Linked DNA regions of Homo sapiens. The protein of the gene in region 3 binds, or shares a complex with, the protein of the main gene of each other region. Links are inferred from orthologs where the notes say so. Each region holds a gene or a part of one and is shown on either strand. Other genes may lie near its edges.

Region 1 (5,057 bases), about 37 Mb from region 3:
GGGACTACAGGCATATGCCACCATGCTCAGCTTTTTTTTTTTTTTTTTTTTTTTTTTTTTTTTTTTTGGTAAAAACTGGTTTTCACCATGTTGCCCAGGCTAGTCTGGAACCCCTGGGCTCAAGCGACACACCCAGCTCAGCCTCCCAAAGTGCTGGGAATATAGGTATGAATGAGCCACTGCACCCCGCCCTTATTTTATTTATTGAGACAGGGTCTGGCTCTGTGGCCCAGGCTGGAGTGCAGTAGCACGATCATAGCTCACTGCAGCCTGGAGCTCCTGGACTCAAGTGATCCTCCCAACTCAGCCTCCCAAAATACTGGGATTACAGGCATAAAACCACTACATCGGGCCATCTCCCATTTTTAAGCTCCATCTGCGTCACTAGCTGATGGGAGTCATCATGACCCAGGTTGGAGGAGGCAGTCTGTGGCCCTGGGTTTTCAGGGACAGCCGTCTCTTGGGTGGTGCAGGGTCAAAAACAGATGAATACCCAGGGGCATGGTCGGTAACATTTATTGCGCAACTCTGAGGCCGGGGCGGACCCAGCTGGGGAGATTTACTGTGGGAACGTCTGGCCCGGCCCCTTCCTCCCCTCCGGGCGCCGCTGGCCGCCTCCGTTCCCGGTCCGGGCCGCGTTCAGCCCCTGAAGGGGCCCCGTGGGGCCTGCGCTAGACCCGGAGGGATCGGGGGCTCCGAAGGGGGCCGCCTGGTGGGTGTCAGGACGAGTCTAGGACCTCCGAGAGCGACGGTGCTTCTTGTGACTTTCGATTAATTTCTGGGAACGGATCTTGAGTGATGCGCGGGTCACTACCTCGTTGTCCTCCTCCTCACTCTCTTCGTCTAAGGGGGGTGGGGGGATGAGCAGGGAGCGATGTGGGATCCAGGTCCCCATCCCTGGCTCCCCTTCCCTTTACCACCCCACTCCACCCCCACCTTGGCCCTGAACAGGGTATCTGACAACCTCCTGCTACCCAGCTTGGGGCCCCAACCGCACCCCTTCATCCCCCCACCCATACTGACCAAAAAACTTGTCCTTGGAAGTGGCAAGGGGCAGGGCGATGCGGGTGTTGTATTCGGGCAGCCTTCCCTCTAAGCTGGCGAGGAACTAAGCGGGGATGGGAAGCGAGAGAGGAAGGTGGGCGGGGCCAGGGGCCACCGAGAAGTCACGTTCCCCCTCCTCCCTACCCCATTCCGAGATATGCCCTAGTTCCAACTGGAGACCACTGCCCACTCCCATCCCTCCTTAAGCAGGCACCTTGATACCCAGCTTCACCCCCTCATCACTCAGGTCCGCCCCTGGTCTCTGGGGCCCTGCCACTAGGCCTCTCCCCATCCGGATACCCCAGCCGCGTCCTCTAGCCTCACAGGACCCGCCTGCACCTCTTCTGGTTTCTTCCCTCGTGGCTCGGGCTCACCCCTGGCTCGTCAAACCTCGCCCGTTGTCCCCGAGACCCCTTCCTGGCTGATCAGCCTGCAATCTGGTCTCCCGAAGTTGCCCCCGGTTCCCTGGTTTTCCGACCCAGCCCTACTCCTAGATCTCTGGAGCTCTGCCCCATGGCTGCAGGGCACCTCGCGGTTAGCGATGTGGCACAGCATCTCCTGCACGTCGTGGCCCTGGAGCTGCGCCTGCAGTTTCAGCAGCTTTTCCTCCACGAGGCCCAGCAGGTTTGGCACATAGTTATCTGCCTGGGGATCCAGCTCCTTTCCCGCGAAGCGGCCGTCCTCCTGCGGCCAGGGTAGAGCCGGGTCAGCCGAGAGGGGTGGGGCCTCTTGGAAGGCTCCACCCAGGGGCGGGGCTTTTCTTTCGGGGGCGGGGCCTAGGAGGTAAGGGCCCACCTGCAGGGTCGATCCTAGCCATTGGGGGCGGGGACTTAGGTCAAGGCCACGTCTGTGATGGGGGAGCCTCTGAACTCTAACTCTATATGTAAAGGTTTCGGGGAGGCCTCTTGGGAACAGTAAGGATTCGAGGGAGGCCATTGTGGGATGGCCTCCTGAAGAAATGGCCCTCTGCTGCGGGCAGGATAGGTCTTCTGTCTCGGGCTGCTCCAGAACTGCAGATAGGTCTCCGAGCTTTTCGGGGACAGGGTGGGACTTCTTTCCCTTGGAGGCGGAGCTTGAGACGGGACAGGGTCTCTGACGTCTTGGGCTTCCTTGGGGAGTGAGAGCTTCCCCAGGGAGGTGGGGCGGGGACTCTGAGGAATGGGGTGGGGCTTCCCCTGTGGGCGGGGCCTCTGACGTCCGGGACAGAGGATGTGGCAGGCCACGTTCCCTCGGGCAAGCTGGTGTGGCAGGAACCCCGCTTCGTGGCTGCGCCTCTGCGGTCCCAGGAGGGCCTGTCGGGGCTTCCCCTGGGCGGGGCCTACCACAGTGATGTGGATCAGCTTGCTGGCCAGGTGCTCCAGGCTGTCCTTGGCCACTTGCATCGCCCGCAAGGCGCGCTCCAGCTGGTCCTTGGCCTCGGCGTGCCGCCGCTCCTCCTTCTTGAGACGCTCCTGCGCCTCGGCTTGCAGTTTCTGCTGGCTGCAGGGAGCCGGGAGGTCACCCCGGGGGCTCAGCCCGCCCCGCCGCCCTCCCCAGAGCCCCGGTGCCTCACCTCACCAGCGTGGCCTCCCCCGAGTACTTGAGGTCTTCCAGCTCCCGCTGCAGTTGTTGCTTCTCCTGCTTCAGCCTCACCAACGTCTGCTCGTTCTCGCTCTTGAGCGTCTCCAACTGCGCGAAGGTGTCGCCCTGGGCCAGGAACCGCCGCACCAACGACTGCGGGCCACCCAGCCCCAGTCAGAGCCAGGGCCTAGGGAGCGTAGGGGCGCTCCACCTCCTCTCCCCCACCCTGCGAACCCTCGCACGCAGGACAGGTGGCCTGAGCTGGCGCCTTTTGCACAGCAATGTATGGGGACACTGTGGGTTGGACGCAGGGTTGCTTCAAGGGTGAGCAGCCCTGGATATATCATTTTTGCGGGGCCCTTTCTGGCCTATATAAGGAATTTGAGTCAGCCCAAACTCGGGGGCAACTGGAGAGGCGAGCATAGCTTCTTTCCAAAATCAAAGTGCCATCAATTTCTGGCCGTGAATCTCGCCCGATTCCGCAGGAAATACCGCCCGTCTTCGGAGCCATCCGCTCACAAGGCCCACATCTGGAAAGGGGCTGCGCCTCAGTGCCCCAGATGACCCCATAGGTGTACTCCTATAGGTGGGAGTCCCGGAAGTCATCAGGGGTCGGCCCCATCGGAGGAGCAGCAGGTTGGCGGACACCCAGAGGGGAGAAACAGGGTTGGGGTCCAGTGTTCACCGGCGGGAACCAGGACCCAAGGGGGACACAGCGGTCTTAGAATAATGCAAGGAAGACTTTACAGTGAGGGACCCGGCGCAGGGACCCCACTTGCCAGGATCTGAGGATGGTACTGGGCGGTCCACTGGGTCCCAGACCATGTTACAGACACTGGAGACAGAACAAGAGACGAAACTCCCAGTTCTCCTAGAGCTGGCATGGCAAAGGAGTTAGCATGGTGCAAGAGAGAACGGAAGGCGAGTGTAGAAATGACGGCGAGTGTAGACAGCTCCTAGGGGTTTTGCTGCGAAGGGCAGCAGAAAAACTGAACGGTAGCTGGAGGGGGAAGGGATGTTTTTCAAGAAAGGAGCAGGTTTGTGAGCTGAATAACCGACCTGGCAGAGAGGGGAGACAGGGTGTGTCGGTTTCACCGGCTTAGGCACCCCTGGGGCCCGTCTGGGGTGGGGGGGGGGCGCGGCGGAGAGGGCTGCGGGCAGAACTCACGTGCGTCTCGTCAGTGCCAGTGGCGTCCTTGACCTTGCCAAAGATCACCTCCATCTGGTACATGCTCCAGCGCTGCCGCAGCTCCTCCTCCTTGGCATGCAGGCTGTCCTGGATGGTGTCGTCGGACTGTAGCAGCAGGTGCTCGCGGTGGGTCTGCTCGTGGGTTGAGGTCAGAGCCAGGGTCAGCTGGTGGACAGCGCTTGGGAAGGAGGCCGGGGAGGGGGATCCAGATAGGGGCCCGCGAGGAACAGGGCTCAAACTGGAGGGAAGGGAGAGGGCAAAAGCTTGGGGCCAGATAAAGGCACCCGGGCAGGTGTCAAGAAAGTGGGACAAGGTCGGGCGCGGGGGCGGTGGCTGTGGCTCACGCCTTTAATTCCAGTACTTTAGGAGGCTGAGGCGGGAGGATTGTTTGAGCCCAGGGGTTCGGGACCAGCTTGGACAACACGGCGAGACCCCGTCTCTACAAAAAACACCAAAATTAGCAGGGCGTGGTGGGGCGCCTGAAGTCCCAGCTACTTGGGAGGCTGAGGTGAGAGGATCACTTGAGCCCAGGAGGTCGAGACTGCAGTGAGCTATAATTAGTCTGAGCGACAGAGACCGTGTCTCAAAAAAAAATCCATATATATATGTATATATGTATATATATGTATATATGTATATATGTGTATATATACCTATGTGTATATATGTATATATGTGTATATATACCTATGTGTATAAATATATATGTGTATATATACCTATGTGTATATATGTATATATGTGTATATATACCTATGTGTATATATGTATATATGTGTATATATACCTATGTGTATATATGTATATATGTGTATATATACCTATGTGTATATATGTATATATGTGTATATATACCTATGTGTATATATGTATATATGTGTATATATACCTATGTGTATATATGTATATATGTGTATATATACCTATGTGTATATATGTATATATGTGTATATATACCTATGTGTATATATGTATATATGTGTATATATACCTATGTGTATATATGTATATATGTGTATATGTACCTATGTGTATATATGTATATATGTGTATATGTACATATGTGTATATATGTATATATGTGTATATGTACATATGTGTATATGTATATATGTGTATATATACATATGTGCATATATACATATGTGTATATATGTGTATATGTGTATATATGTATATGTGTATATGTACATATGTGTATATATGTATATATGTGTATATGTACATATGTGTATATGTGTATATGTACATATGTATATATACA
Region 2 (7,040 bases), on a different chromosome or scaffold from region 3:
ATTCACAAGGTGGGAGGGTGACCTTGCAATAGCAGATTCAGGGGTAGATAGGAAGAAGTGATAGTAGTTAGATATTAAATCTGGACAATTCTTTCAAGAAGCTAGGTTTTAAGAAGGAAAGCCATTATATAAGAAACAGAAGTAATAAGTGTGAAATTAAGGTAAGTTCTCTCCTTTTCTTTCCTTCTTCCTCTCATTCTTTCATTTTGCTTTTCAGATGGGACAGTTTTGAATCTTTTAAAATTCTAATGGGAGCCAGGCATGGTGGCTCATGCCTGTAATCCCAGCACTTTAGGAAGCCGAGGCAAGCTGATCACTTGAGGTCGGGAGTTCGAGACCAGCCTGACCAACATGGAGAAACCACGTCTCTACTAAAAAATATAAAATTATCCGGGCGTGGTGGCGCATGCCTCTAATCCCAGCTAGTCGGGAGGCTGAGGCAGGAGAATCACTTGAACCTGGGAGGCGGAGGTTGCGGTGAGCCGAGATTGTGCCATTGCACTGCAGCCTGGGCAACAAGAGCAAAACTCCGTCTCAAAAATAAATAAATAAATAAATAAATAAATAAATAAATAATAAAATTCTAATCGGAAGGTTTCACTAGAGAGGGAAGAGATTGAAGATGTGGTATAAAGATAAAGGTAAATGAATGAAATAGCTCCTGAGGAGATGGAGAGATCCAGAGCTCCCCATCAGGCACTTCTGAGACCCACCCACCCACCTCACCATCCATCCACCTCATCCATTAATCCATCCACCCATCCATCTACCCACCCACCTACCTCGCCCATCCACCCACCTCACCCATCCATCCATCCATCCACCCATCCATCTACCCACCCACTCCATCCATCCATCCATCCATCCATCCATCCATCCATCCATCCACCCACCCACCCCATCCACCCATCCATCCACTCATCCATCCATCTATCTACCCACCCTCCCATTCACTTCATCCATCCATCCATCCATCCATCCAACCATCCATCATCTATCTATCCATCCATCCATCCATCCATCCACCCACCTATCCATCCATGTACCTACACAGCCATTCACCTCATCCATCCACCCATCCACCCACTCATCATTTCATCTGCCCATCCATCTATTCACCTACCTCACCCATCCATCTGCTCACCTCATCCATCCATCCACTCATCCATCTACCCACCCACCTACCTCACCCATCAATCCATCTCATCCATCCATTCATCCATCCATCCATCCATCCATCCATCCATCCAATCCATCCATCCACCCATCTATCCATCCATCTACCTACCCGCACATTCACCTCACCATCCATCCGTCCATCCACCCACCCACTCATCTTTTTATCTACCCATCCATCTACCCACCCACCCACCTCACCCATCCACCCACCTCATCCATCCATGCATCCATCCATCCATCCACCCATCCATCTACCCACACACCTACCTACCTCACCCATCCATCTACTCACCTCACCCATCCATCCATCCATCTACCCACTTACCCACCCACCTCACCCATCAACCCAGTTCATCATCCATCCATCCATCCATCCATCCATTGTCCATCCATGCATCCACCCATCTATCCATGCATCTATCAATCTATCTATCTATCTATCTATCTATCTATCTATCCACCCACCCATCCATTCACCCACCCACGCATCCAACCATCCATATAACCAATCACCCACTTCACCTATCCACCCACCTCATCCATCCACTCATCCATCCATCCATCCATCCATCCATCCATCCATCCATTCATCCATCCACACACCCATCCATCCATCTACCCACTCACCTCAACTATCCATTCATCCATTCACCCATTCACCCATCCATCTACCCACCCACACACCCACATCACCCATCCATCCTTCCATCCATCCATCCATCCACCCACCCACCCACCCATCCACCTCACCCATTCATCTATCCACTCATCCATCCATCCATCCATCCATCCATCCATCCATCCATCCATCTCTCATTACTAGACACACACCATGTGCTACACACAGGGTATGGGGAAACACAGTGAAACAAAGACTAAGTTCCTGGCCTCAGTGAGCTGACATGTACAAGGCGAGACAGATATACCTAGGTAATAAAAAGAGCTGCTAAGTAAAAGAAAGAAAGAAGGGCTGGGGGATGAACAGGGAAGATTGTTAAGATGGTCAAGACAGGGCTCTGTGAGGAAGTGGCATTGCAGCAGAGACTGGATGAAGTGAGAAAATGAGGCCCAGGAGGGTCTGGGGAAAGGGCTTCTGGACAGAGGCAGCAGCAAGTGCACAGGCATGGAGGAGGCACATGAGCCAGAGGCTGTGGCTCCAGCAGCAAGAGAGAAGGGAGATGATAGGACATGTGGGTGGAGAGAGGGAAATGGCCCACTGGGTCCACTTCAGAACCCTCTGGGGGGTTTTGAGCATGGGAGGGGCCTGGCAGCATTTGCATTTTAAACATACTGGACATTGTTGAGAAAAGTCAGTAGGGGATGACAGTGGAAGCCAGAAAGCTAACAATCTAGGCTAGGTAACATATAACAGTGGCTTAACTTAGAGTGGTGGCAAACAGATGTGAGGAGAAGAGGCTATATTCAAGGACATATTTTGGAGGTGTAGCTAACAGTGTTAAAAGAGAGAAATTAAAGATGGCCCCTAGGTTTTGACTGAACAACTGGGCGTATGTGGTTGCCACTTATTGAGATAGGGAAGACTGGGGGATGGGTGAGTTTTGGGGAAAAGTCAAAAATGTGTTGAGGAGATCTAAGTGGACATGTTGAGTAGGCGGCAGGAGACACATGCTAGGGCTGGGAAGAGTGATACTGTTTCTATATCACATCACACTGCCTGCCTCAATCTTCCAGGGATGCCTCATCACCTTCAAGACTAAATCTGAGCTCCAAGCTCCACAAGCTGTGCTTCTGCAGCCTCATCACCAGCCTCAGAGCACACCAAAACCTCGTCCAGTGCAGATGCATTTGCATCTCTTGTTCCATCTCTTTCTTTCTCTCTCTCTATCTCTCTCTGTCTCTCTTTTGTGCATACATCACCCATTGCTCAGATTATTTTTCCCCATCTGACCTGGCTATTTTGTCCTTTGAAAACCAGTTACTCTGATAAGCTTCCTGCCCTACCAGTCATTTACCAGTCCTCCCATACAGCTGTTTAGATGACCTCTTCTCAAGTTCCACAACACTCTACACATATCTCTATGACTCTGGCACCAGGGTACCCAGGGTATTCCACTAATAAGTGAGTAAACTTGGACAAGGTGCCTAAACTCTCCAAGCCTTGGTTTCCTCATCTGGAAAATGAGGCTAATATTACTACCTACTTCACAGGGTTATTATGAGGATTAAATGAGGCAATATGAGGCTTAGTGTTTACAACGTTGCCTGGCATTGATGAAGAACATACAAGTAATTAAGTATCATTATAATAATATGTATCATACTCTTGTGTAATTATTTTCACTGGAAAATATGAGCCCTTGAGTAAAATCACTGAGCCTTTCATCTGTGCTTCTGGCACACATTAAACCTCATTAATTGTTTCTGACATGAATGAGTTAATGAATGAAACACAGCACTGGGTCACACTAGTACCAAGAAATGAATCAGCAGGTTATTCAGTGGGCTTTCTGTATTTAAAAGGTATTCTTTCTTGGTGGACAGGATTTGTCTGATCCACTACCCATTAAATCAAGAAGTCCTGGGTTGTTCTACATTCTACTTTGATTACCGTTCAGGGAAAGTCATATCAATACCTTTGGATCAGGAAGACATGGCCCAAAGGCCTCCAGTAGAAGAGTCTCTTCTCTCACAGCCAGTTCATAGTCTGCAAAAGACAGCTTCCCATCATGGTCATGATCCTAGGGGAATGAGAAACATGTTAGGCAACACGTAAAATGATTACTGCAAATACATGCTCTTTTCATAGTCAAGTGTTAATTTAAAAAAATGTGCTAGGCTGGGGATGGTGGCTCAGGCCTGTAATCATAGCACTTTGGGAGGCTAAGGCGGGGTGATTCCTTGAGGCCAGAAGTTTGAGACCATACTGGGCAACATAGTGAGACCTCATCTCTATTAAAAAAAAAAATTAGCTGGGCATGGTGGTATGCGCCTGTAGTCCCAGATACTTGGGAGGCTGAGGCAGGAGAATTGCTTGAGCCCAAGAGTTTGATGATGCAGTGAGCTGTGATCATGCTACTGCACTCTAGTCTGGGAGACAGAGCGAGACCCTGTCTCAAAAAAAAAAAAAGTGCTAGAAAAATAAGAGGTTAGGTGGTGAAACTGAAAAGAACTATTAATATGTTGAGGAGCATAATTTATGTGTTTTATTTAAGCAAGCAGAGAACTGAAAATTATAATAATTTGAATTCTTATTTCTAGCCCATATCTGGCCCACAAATTTTAATAAAAAACTTGACATTACCCATATTTACCATTTTCTTCAGTGTTATTTCAACCAAATCTTTAATTCCTTCATCAGGGTCTTCCTCAGATGGCTGTTTGAGAAGGCTGTTCTTCAACATGTGAAACATTTCCTCCTTTGAAATGAATCCGTCACCATTCAAATCAAACACTTCAAAGCAATCTTTTTAAGAAAATAACAAATCATGAATTTGATGCTATCAGTAAGGTAATATTTTCTCTGATAAACTTTTCAGGGCCAAGTTCTATCTTGATGCTGTACCCACAGGTCTTAGTGCAGCCTGATTTGCATTGTAAGTGTCAACGTATACTAGGATATATACAATAATCCTTAGAAAATATTTCCTGATTCTCAATTATGAAAAAGCATACCAAGGAACAGTAACTTGAATATCTTCACCTTGAAACTCTTGGAAAACTGATTGAAATATGGCTCATAAGCAGAGTTCATCAGAATTAATTGAGAGTTAATTAAGAATAAGAACACTTGAATCAATATTCTCTAGTTTTATGGTTACAATTCAAGTAATGAAATCTGTCAAATGCTTAACATATAAATGTATATGTACATAATTAGCATATGTAGTAATGCCTATGGTGTCTTCCTTCGCATAAATTACTCCTCAGAATCACTTGAGTTTTCTTTTTATTAACTTTCTTTCATATTTTATTGACTTGAATTCATTCCATAAAATAGGTTAGTGGGATTCAAACCAACTAACCAGCCAACCAACAAACCCACTTTACTGTCTTGGTTGAAAGACACTGATTTAAGTGCTTTAGATATGTTATTCATAATGTACGAACCAATAGGACAACCTGCAATCTTACATTTCATTTTTTCTTCCAAAGATCCTCGAAGAAACAGTGATAATCCATGAATCCACTCCAATACATTTACACAGCCATCATTATCTTTATCAAAACCTCGGAATACTAAAGGGAGAGAGGTTAAATGGAACACCTGTCCTGCATAATAACTCTCAGTAAAGTATCTACATTGGCATCACTCACTTTTAAAATTAAGAGAACACTTCAGCTTGTGAAGTCCAATATTCTCATTTGACGAAAGAGGAAACTAAGACATCATAATATCATGAAACTCTTTTATTAAACATTCAATTTTTAAAATGTTTTTGTGGGAACAAATACAATTCTCAATGTCTAAGTATATTAATCATTATTTAATAATAAATATGTTGCTATAAAATATGTTGGTCATATTAGATAAATATATGAATATAAATAAAATACTTAATAGTTTTGTTACTCAAGTCATTACTTGATGCATAGAATTATATCTTGTCACTGAAATATCTTCTATGATGTAAAGAATGTAAATGTCCTTTTAAAACTATTCTATTTATTATGTTTATTAAGTGGAAATCGAAATGTTTTAGGTTTTCTGATATAAGGTAAGAGAAAGATGTCAACATGACTTTGTCTTCTTCTTAAATACACAAAATAAAGCCAATATTACCTCCTTTTCTATGATCTTCTCAAAATTAAATTTGTATATTCCAATGACACTGGGAATGCAAAACACTAAGCTTCCTACCAAGAGGATGTCCAAGCACCAAACCCTTTTTTTTTCAGTTATGGCTGGATTTGGCTAATTTGAATCTTGTGTGTCTCTTACCTCTGTCCATAATCATGTCATCTGTCATTCCAAATGTCACATGCAGGATGTTTCGAAATGCATTACGATCCAGTCCAACAACCAGACCTTGCCTCTCTACTCCTCCCACCAAGTCATAAAAAAGCTTTATAAGACAGTTCACTTCAAATTTATTAACTGAAATAATAAAATAGATATAACAAAAATGAACCCTTAATCTTTAAGTTCTAACTTAAATTTTGCAATAAGTTTACAGACAAACAACGTCAAAGACATCAAATAGGTAATTGTCAATAGAAGACTCTCCTGTTTTGAGATTCATGAACCCTTAACTTAATAGAAATAAAAAAAGCAGCATACCCTCCAAACAGGAATTCCCATGTTTAGGGAAAAAAATACGATAGTATTAGCCAAGTTACTAGAATAATGATGGTGGTGTCGGATTCTAAACTCTACAAGGCTAGTAGAAATACGTCTCAAAATAAGAATGGTAAGACTAAAGAATGGTAACTTTTTCTCAGTATTTTTACCATGGCATTTACGAGATTTACAACTTCTTTTCCCTGGAAATAGATGTCAGATTCATGAGAATTAGGTAACAATTTTCATTTCAGTTTAGCCTTCATTAATTCATAAGCCAGATTTTGGAAACTAGAGTCACCAGTTTTCCAATAAAAAAGCTTTAAAGCATATTTTAGCACCCAATATGGCTCTTCTTGAGGATTACGTAAAAATTAACATGCAACTATTCAGTAATAGTTTGGAGGAAGGAAATTTTTATTTAAAGGATATACACACAAACAGATACTTGCTCATACACATTATTGTATAAAGGACCATGGTTATAAATACCGAGTTAATTATTTGTGTTCCAATCCCCATTTGAGAATGTAGGTGGAAGGGTTATTGCCTGGTCTTGATAATATAAAAGCTCAAATACCAAGTATGGGCGGAAGTTGGGGAAAATTTATTTTGAAACCAG
Region 3 (7,040 bases):
TCTGCGTCCCTCCTGCCCTGCGCCTCACAGAGTGTCAGGGGGCTGAAGTGGGGCCATCTTCTTCGGAAGGTCCTCCAGGCTCTGGCCCAGCACTAGGAGGGCAGCGTCGGCCAGGGAGGTGAAGCTCTGGAGAGTGTGGGAGCCTGCGGTCAGCTGGGCCACCCCCGAGACCGGCCTCCTGTCCCGGCTCCCTGCCGTCTCCCACCTGGGCATGTAGGAAGGCCTGCACTGTCAGGAGCTCCACCAGCCGCTTCTCAATGAGGCTCAGGAAGAGGCCCATGTCCCGGTCTCCCATGCTGGTCTTGACCCCAAGGAGGTCATCGATCATGCTGCTGTCGCAATGGGCCTTGGTGAAGAGGAGCTGGATATCTGCGTCATGGAGGGCCGGTTGTCAGGGATCTGGCACCGCCAGCTGGGTGCCAGCCCTCTCCCCACTCAGGTCCTCACTGCCCCATTCTACAGAGACTGCGGTCAAGGCTCAGAGACCAAAAGGGAGTCACCCGAGCTCAGCCAGCCAGGCAGGGGGACGGCACTGCTGTGCATCCCTCTCTCCCTGACTTGTCCTTCAAAGTCAGCCTCAAGTGTCACTGCCTCCAGGAAGCCTTCCCAGTGACCCCAGCAGAGCCAGCCTCATGAGTGTGAGATCCAGGCAGTGGTGAGGGGCCTGCACTTGGCTTGACACGCTGCTGCTCTTCCTATCTTGAAAATCTCAGCAATTTTTTAACAAGGGGCCCCTCATTCTGCACTGGGCCCCACAAATTATGGTCTTGCACCCCAGACTGAGTTAGGGCCTTCTCTCGCCCCCAGTGCCTGGGCGTCCTCTGTCCTAGCCCCTGAGTGATGAGTGCCCAGTGCGCAGGTCAGTCCCCTCCAGGGCCTCTCCCCACTGTGCCCACATCACCTAGCACAGGGCTCGGATCAGCCATCACGACAGCAGGAAGGAGGACCTGCCCATATCTGAGCTCCTACGGTATGCCCCGAGGAGGCTCTCCAGCTCGCTCCCCACCACCCCCCACCTTTCTCTCCATCCGTCATCCCTTCTAATTCTCATGACAACCCTGCAAAGTAGGCACTGCCATCCCCATTCCCAGAGCGGAAGGAGGAAGCCACACACCAAGGTTCACAATTGGTGGAGCTGAGATTCAAACCCAGGACAGGCTGGGTGCAGTGGCTCACGCCTGTAATCCAGCACTTTGGGAAGCCAAGGCAGGCAGATCATTTGAGGTCAGGAGTTTGAGACCAGCCTGGCCACCATGGTGAAACCCTGTCTCTACTAAAAATACAAAAAAACTAGCCGGGCATGGTAGTGCAGGCCTGTAATCCCAGTTACTGGAGAGGCTGAGGCAGGAGAATTGCTTGAACCCGGGAGATGGACGTTGCAGTAAGCCCAGATCACACCACTGCTCTCCAGCCTGGCTGACAGCGTGAGATTCCATCTCAAAAAAACAAATAAAAGCTAACAATAAATGTTTTAAAAAAGAGAAAAGAAACAGGACAGCCTGACTCCTGAGTGCTCTGCATGGCTACTTCCTGAAAAATAAGAAAGATGAGGCCCGGCGCAGTGGCTCACACCTGTAATCCCAGCACTTTGGGAAGCCAAGGCGGGTGGATCACCTCAAGTCAGGAGTTTGAGACCAGCCTGACCAACATGGCAAAACCCCCCTCCACTAAAAATACAAAAATTAGCTGGGTGTGGTGGTGTGTGCCTGTAATCCCAGCTACTGGGAGGCTGAGGCAGGAGAATCGCTTGAACCAGGAGGGGGAGATTGCAGTGAGCCGAGATCGTGCCACTGCACTCCAACCTGGGGAACAGAGCGAGACTTTCTCAAATTTTAAAAAATAATAATAATAATAGAAAAAAAGGATGCACAGGTGGATGCAACATACCCACAGAAGGGATTAAAAAAAAAAAAAAGAAACTCAGCCAGGAGTGGTGGCTCATGCCTATAATCCCAGCACTTTGGGAGTCCAAGACAGGAGGATCACTTGAGTCCAGGAGTTCAAGACTAGCCTGGACAACATAGTAAAATCCTATCTCTAAAAAAAAAAAGGGCCGGGCACAGTGGCTCATGCATATGTAATCCCAGCACTTTGGGATACTGAGGCGGGCAGATCACCTGAGGTCAGGAGTTTGAGACCAGCCTGCCAACATGGCGAAACCCCGTCTCTACTAAAAATACCAAAATTAGTTGGGCGTGGTGGCGGGCACCTGTAATCCCAGCAACTCAGGAGGCTGAGGCAGAACTGCTTGAACCTGGGTGGCAGAGGTTGCAGTGAGCCGAGATTGTGCCACTGCACTCCAGCCTGGGCAAAAGAGCGAAATTCCTCTCAAAAAATAAATAAATGAAAAAAATCTAAAAAAATTTTTAAAAAGGAAACTCTAGACCCCTACCTCATACCATAATGCAAATCAATTTGTCATAAGTCACAGACTTCAATGTGGGAGTTCAAACAATGAAACTTCTAGGAGAAAACACAGCATAATGCCTTTGTAACCTCAGGACAGGCAAAAATTTCTTAGGCAGGCCACAAAGTCATTAACTACAAAAAGAAAATTTCATAAATTAGATATCCTCAAAACTAAGAAACTTCAGTTCATCACCAAAAAAAATGAAAAGGCAAGCTACAGTATAAGAGAAAATATTTACCAAAAGTCTAGTATCTAGAATATACAAAGAACTCCTTCAACTCAGTTATAGCAAGACAAACCCAATTTTTAAAAAAACAAGTGCACAAGATTGAACAGGAACTTTACAAAAACATCTGAATGGCCAATACGATGCTCAATATTATTAGTCACCAGGGAAATGCCAATTAAATTAATAGAGAGAGTACGGCACACACGTTAGATGGCTAATATTAAAATGGCTGACGGCCAGGCACGGGGGCTCACGCCTGTAATCCCAGCACTTTGGGAGGCCGAGGCGGGCAGATCACGAGGTCAAGAGATCGAGACCATCCTAGCCAACGTGATGAAACCCCGACTCTACTAAAAATACAAAAATTAGCTGGGCGTGGTGGCGCACACCTGTAGTCCCAGCTACTGGAGAGGCTGAGGCAGGAGAATCGCTTGAACCCAGGAAGCGGAGGTTGCAGTGAGCCGAGATCATGCCATTGCACTCCAGCCTGGTGACAGAGCAAGACTGCATCTCAAAAACAAAACAAGATAAAAAATGGCTGACACTAGGAAGTGGTGGAAAAGGTGTGGATCATCGGGGACTCCCATATGCTCGCATAGGTGAGAGCATAAAATCTTGCGACCAGTGTGGAAAACTGTTCGGCATTTTCTAATAAATATCAACATATACCTACCCTAAGACCCATCGGTCCCACTGCTAGGCATTTATAGACAGAGATGTACATGGATGATCCATGGATGAATACTGGGTAGATGGATGGATGGGTGGATGATGGATATGGGACAGTTGGAGGGACAGCATCTGTTTTTTAGTGTTTTGTGAAACAAGTGGAATAATGCATAAGTGCCTTGCACAGTGAATGACACATAATAAACATTGCTATTATATTTTATCATCATTTTCTTTACAAATAATAACATTTTTGGTAACTAAGACTAAGAAGAAATTTGGTAACTAAGACTAAGAAGAAATTTGGTAACTAAGACTAAGACTAGGAAGACAAAAGTCAAATGTCATTGCAGATAGATGGATGAACAGATGGATGTGGGGCTGTTGGAGGCAGATGGACAGATAGACAATGGATGGATTGATGGACATGGGACAGATGGAGGGATAGACCCTGGATGGATGGATGGACATGGGACAGTTGGAGGGATAGACCCTGCATGGATGGATGGACATGGGACAGTTGGAGGAATAGATCCTGGATGGATGGATGGATGGATGGATGGATGGATGGATGGATGGATGGATATACGGACAGATGGATATAGGACAGATGAAGGGGTAGATCCTGGATGGATAGATATGGGACAGATGAAGGAATAGACCCTGGATAGATAGATGGATATGGGACAGATGGAGGTATAGAACCTGGATGGAGAGATAGATATAGGACAGATGAAGGAATAGATCCTGGATGAATGATGGATACAGGACAGTTGGAGGAATAGACCCTGGATGGATGGATGGATGGGTGGATGAATGGATGGATGGATGGATGAATGGATGGATGGATATAGGACAGATGGAGGGGTAGGTCCTGGATGGGTAGATAGATATAGAACAGATGAAGGAACAGACCCTGGATAGATAGATGGATATGGGACAGAATGGAGGGATAGACCCTGGATGGAGAGATAGATATAGGACAGATGAAGGAATAGATCCTGAATGGATGATGGATATAGGACAGTTGAAGGGATAGACTCTGAATGGATGGATGGATATAGGATAATTGGAGAGACAGACGTTGAATGGATGGATGGATGGATGGATGGATGGATGGATGGATGGATGGATATGGGACAGTTGGAGGGATCAACCCTAGATGGATGGATGGATGCATTGATAGATGGATGGATGGATGGGTGTAGGACAGTTGGAGGGACAGATGATGGATGGATAGATGGACATGGGACAGTTGGAGGGATAGACCCTGGTTGGAAAGATGGACAGATATGGGGCAACTGATAAGCAAGTGAACCAGGTTGTCCATGCAATGCCTCCAAGCCCCGCGGGCTGATGGTGTCCTTCCAAGTGGAGAAGCCAGGCTCGGGAGGGGGCGCCCATGGGTGCTCACCAGCCTTGAGCTTCTCCAGCTGTCCCCGCACATCCTGGAAGCGGGCCTCAAGGCGCTCAGCCTCCGAGTGCACCTTGTCCATGCGCTGCTGCAACACCTTCTGCTGCTGCTCCTGCAGCAAATGCTGGTCATCCTTGCTGGCACGTGCGCTCACCAAAGCCTCCTGCATCTGTGGGGACAGGGCTGAATGCTGGGCCAGATGGCAGCCTCGGGAGTTGGGGGTGTGGAGCTAGGAAGAAGCAGGAGGCAGGCTGAGGGAGGGAAGGGGGCGGGGAGGCCGGGAGGAGAGGAGGAGATGGAGAGGGCAGGCCTCACTCACCTCCTTGATCTCTTCCTGCACATGCTCCAGCTCCAAGTTCTGCTCGTTGATGAAGTTGAACTCAGCAAAGTTGCGCTCCTCGACTGGGAGAGTTGGGCAAGGCGGGGCCCAGAGAGAGGGAGACAGAGAAACAGAGACAGAGAGAACAGAGACAGAGAGGCATACAGAAGGCCAAAGAAAGTGAAGATGAGGAAGGCCACACAGAAACCAAGGCAGAGAGACGAACAGAGAGGAGTCACAGAGACAAAGAGGTGTGGGAAGATACGGCAGGTGGGACACAGAAATACACAGCAAGGCAGAGAGGGAAAGCCAGAGACTCGGCAATAGCAAGGGAGATGGGGAGATGCAGGCGGGGAGAACGGTAGATATGGGTAAGGAGAGAAACAGAGAGGGACAGGGTTGAGGGAAGGATGTGGAGAGTGACCCCAGGCCCAGGAGTTAGGAGGGGGTGGGGAGGGGCAGAGACAGGGCCACGGTAAGACGCCAGTGGACGCGGGCGGCGGGTCCCAGGCATGACGCCTTGTTCCTCCAGCACAGATGGAGGAGTTCCCCAGGGCCAGAGCTGAGGCCAGCCTGCACTGGACTCAGGGGGTGCCGGGGTCCCGGGCCTCCTCCCTCCACCCAGGGCCCCACTCACTCTCCAGATACTTCTGCACCAACAGGTCAGGGTCACTCTCCCCCATCAGCTGGGACAGTTTATTCAGGGCGTCCTCGTAGCAAAGCACCAGCCTCTCCTGGGAGGTCTTCCAGACGCCCTCGGCCACCTCCCCGGCTAGGGGAAGAGAGAACAGCAGGTCGGCCTCCTGGGTGGCCTCCAACACAGAGACCTCCTGGGTGAGGGGGAGCGAAGTGTGGTCCCACCTGGGGCACGAAGGTGTGCTGCAGGTGCCCCAGGGGCGGCCAGGCCCTTGAGATGCAAAGGCAGCAGCCCCAGCCTCACCCTGCTTTTCACGCTTCTCCAGGACATCGGGATCCGGCTGCCGGTCGTTGTTCTTGAGCTTGAGGAAGTGGTGCAGCTGCTCCAGGTGCAAGATCTGCCGCTGCAGGACCTGCGCCTCCATCTCGCTCTGGGCCTCCTCTTTCTCCGCGCGCTCCCGCAGCAAGCCCATCTTGGCCTTCGCCTCCTCCCTGCGGGGGTCAGCCGGGGTCAGGATGACTGGAGGCTGGACTGGGGTCGGCCTGGGGTCCTGGGGATGGGCGGGGTCAGCCAGAGGTTGTGGGGGGTGAGGTGGAGTCAGCTGGTGTCCCAGATGGGCAGGGCCAGCCTGGGGTCACAGGAATGGGGCTGAATCAGGTTGCAGTTATCCTGTGGTCACAAAAAGCAGAGAACTGGCTGGGCACGGTGGCTCAGGCTGTAATCCCAGCACTTTGGGAGGCAGGAGGATCACCTGCAGTCAGGAGTTTGAAACCAGCCTGGCCAACATGGTGAAACTCCATCTCTACTAAAAATACAAAAATTAGCCAGACCTGGTGGTGCATGCCTGTAATCCCAACTACTTGGGAGGCTGAGGCAAGAGAATCGCTTGAACCTGGGAGGTGAAGATTGCAGTGAGCTGAGATCGCACCACTGCACTCCAGCCTGGGTGGCAAGAGCGAAACTGTCTCAAAAAAAAAAAAAAGACAGAAGCAAGAACTTCAAAAGAGTGCGACATCATATTAGAAACACAACACAAAACTCTCGGTGTGCTGCTGGCTCACGTTCTTTCAGCAGCCTGCTCTCCTCATCCTTCAGAGTGTACTGTCTCTCTCTAGGTAAACTCTCTGTTCTCTATTTGCCTTCAGTAAATTCTCTTTGTTGGCTAAATCAGTCTCTTGGCAGAATTCTTTCTCCCAAGTAAGACTAAAAAGCGAGGATTCCTGTACTTCCCGGTGGCAGGTAGTTTTCCTTTTGGAGTGATGGAAATATTTCAGATCTAGACAGAAGTGGTGCGGTTGCACGGCCCCGTGAATGTACTAAATGCTGCTACATTCTACGCTTTAAAATGGTGAATTTTGCCAC

Evidence for each region.
Region 1: the proteins of ODAD1 (region 3) and ODAD3 are in contact, whole or in part, in a cryo-EM structure (PDB 9CPB), measured with the Bos taurus proteins. The link is inferred for Homo sapiens from one-to-one orthologs. Residues at the interface, in XP_024834988.1 of Bos taurus: Leu31, Gln32, Gln34, Cys35, Met38, Glu41, Arg42, Tyr45, Val49, Arg52, Ile53, Gln56, Leu57, Glu59, Ile60, Leu63, Glu64, Val66, Arg67, Leu70, Arg71, Gln73, Ile74, Ala77, Gln78, Asp86, Arg89, Leu90, Ser92, Met93; in NP_001095517.1 of Bos taurus: Gln69, Leu73, Lys76, Ile77, Leu79, Leu80, Asp83, Arg84, Phe87, Tyr88, Thr91, Asn94, Ile95, Asn98, Gln99, Thr101, Ile102, Leu105, Arg106, Glu108, Thr109, Leu112, Gln113, Gln115, Leu116, Leu119, Gly122, Asp123, Val126, Ala129.
Region 2: ODAD1 (region 3) and CLXN share a complex: the UniProt entries of both Homo sapiens proteins name them as parts of the outer dynein arm-docking complex.

The regions. Positions count from the first base shown.
Region 1 is NC_000019.10:11,420,105-11,425,161, forward strand, and holds the end of ODAD3 (outer dynein arm-docking complex subunit 3), read right to left. Parts: intron 3,926-5,057; coding exon 3,773-3,925; intron 2,758-3,772; coding exon 2,597-2,757; intron 2,524-2,596; coding exon 2,367-2,523; intron 1,729-2,366; coding exon 1,573-1,728; intron 1,109-1,572; coding exon 1,024-1,108; intron 844-1,023; coding exon 731-843; 3' UTR 501-730; downstream 1-500. UniProt on the Homo sapiens protein: Component of the outer dynein arm-docking complex (ODA-DC) that mediates outer dynein arms (ODA) binding onto the doublet microtubule. Involved in mediating assembly of both ODAs and their axonemal docking complex onto ciliary microtubules.
Region 2 is NC_000008.11:48,725,269-48,732,308, forward strand, and holds part of CLXN (calaxin), read right to left. Parts: intron 6,236-7,040; coding exon 6,080-6,235; intron 5,377-6,079; coding exon 5,272-5,376; intron 4,604-5,271; coding exon 4,452-4,603; intron 3,879-4,451; coding exon 3,774-3,878; intron 1-3,773. UniProt on the Homo sapiens protein: Component of the outer dynein arm-docking complex (ODA-DC) that mediates outer dynein arms (ODA) binding onto the doublet microtubule. Seems to regulate the assembly of both ODAs and their axonemal docking complex onto ciliary microtubules.
Region 3 is NC_000019.10:48,297,972-48,305,011, forward strand, and holds part of ODAD1 (outer dynein arm-docking complex subunit 1), read right to left. Parts: intron 6,170-7,040; coding exon 5,982-6,169; intron 5,814-5,981; coding exon 5,679-5,813; intron 5,125-5,678; coding exon 5,042-5,124; intron 4,892-5,041; coding exon 4,723-4,891; intron 370-4,722; coding exon 206-369; intron 127-205; coding exon 29-126; intron 1-28. UniProt on the Homo sapiens protein: Component of the outer dynein arm-docking complex (ODA-DC) that mediates outer dynein arms (ODA) binding onto the doublet microtubule. Involved in mediating assembly of both ODAs and their axonemal docking complex onto ciliary microtubules.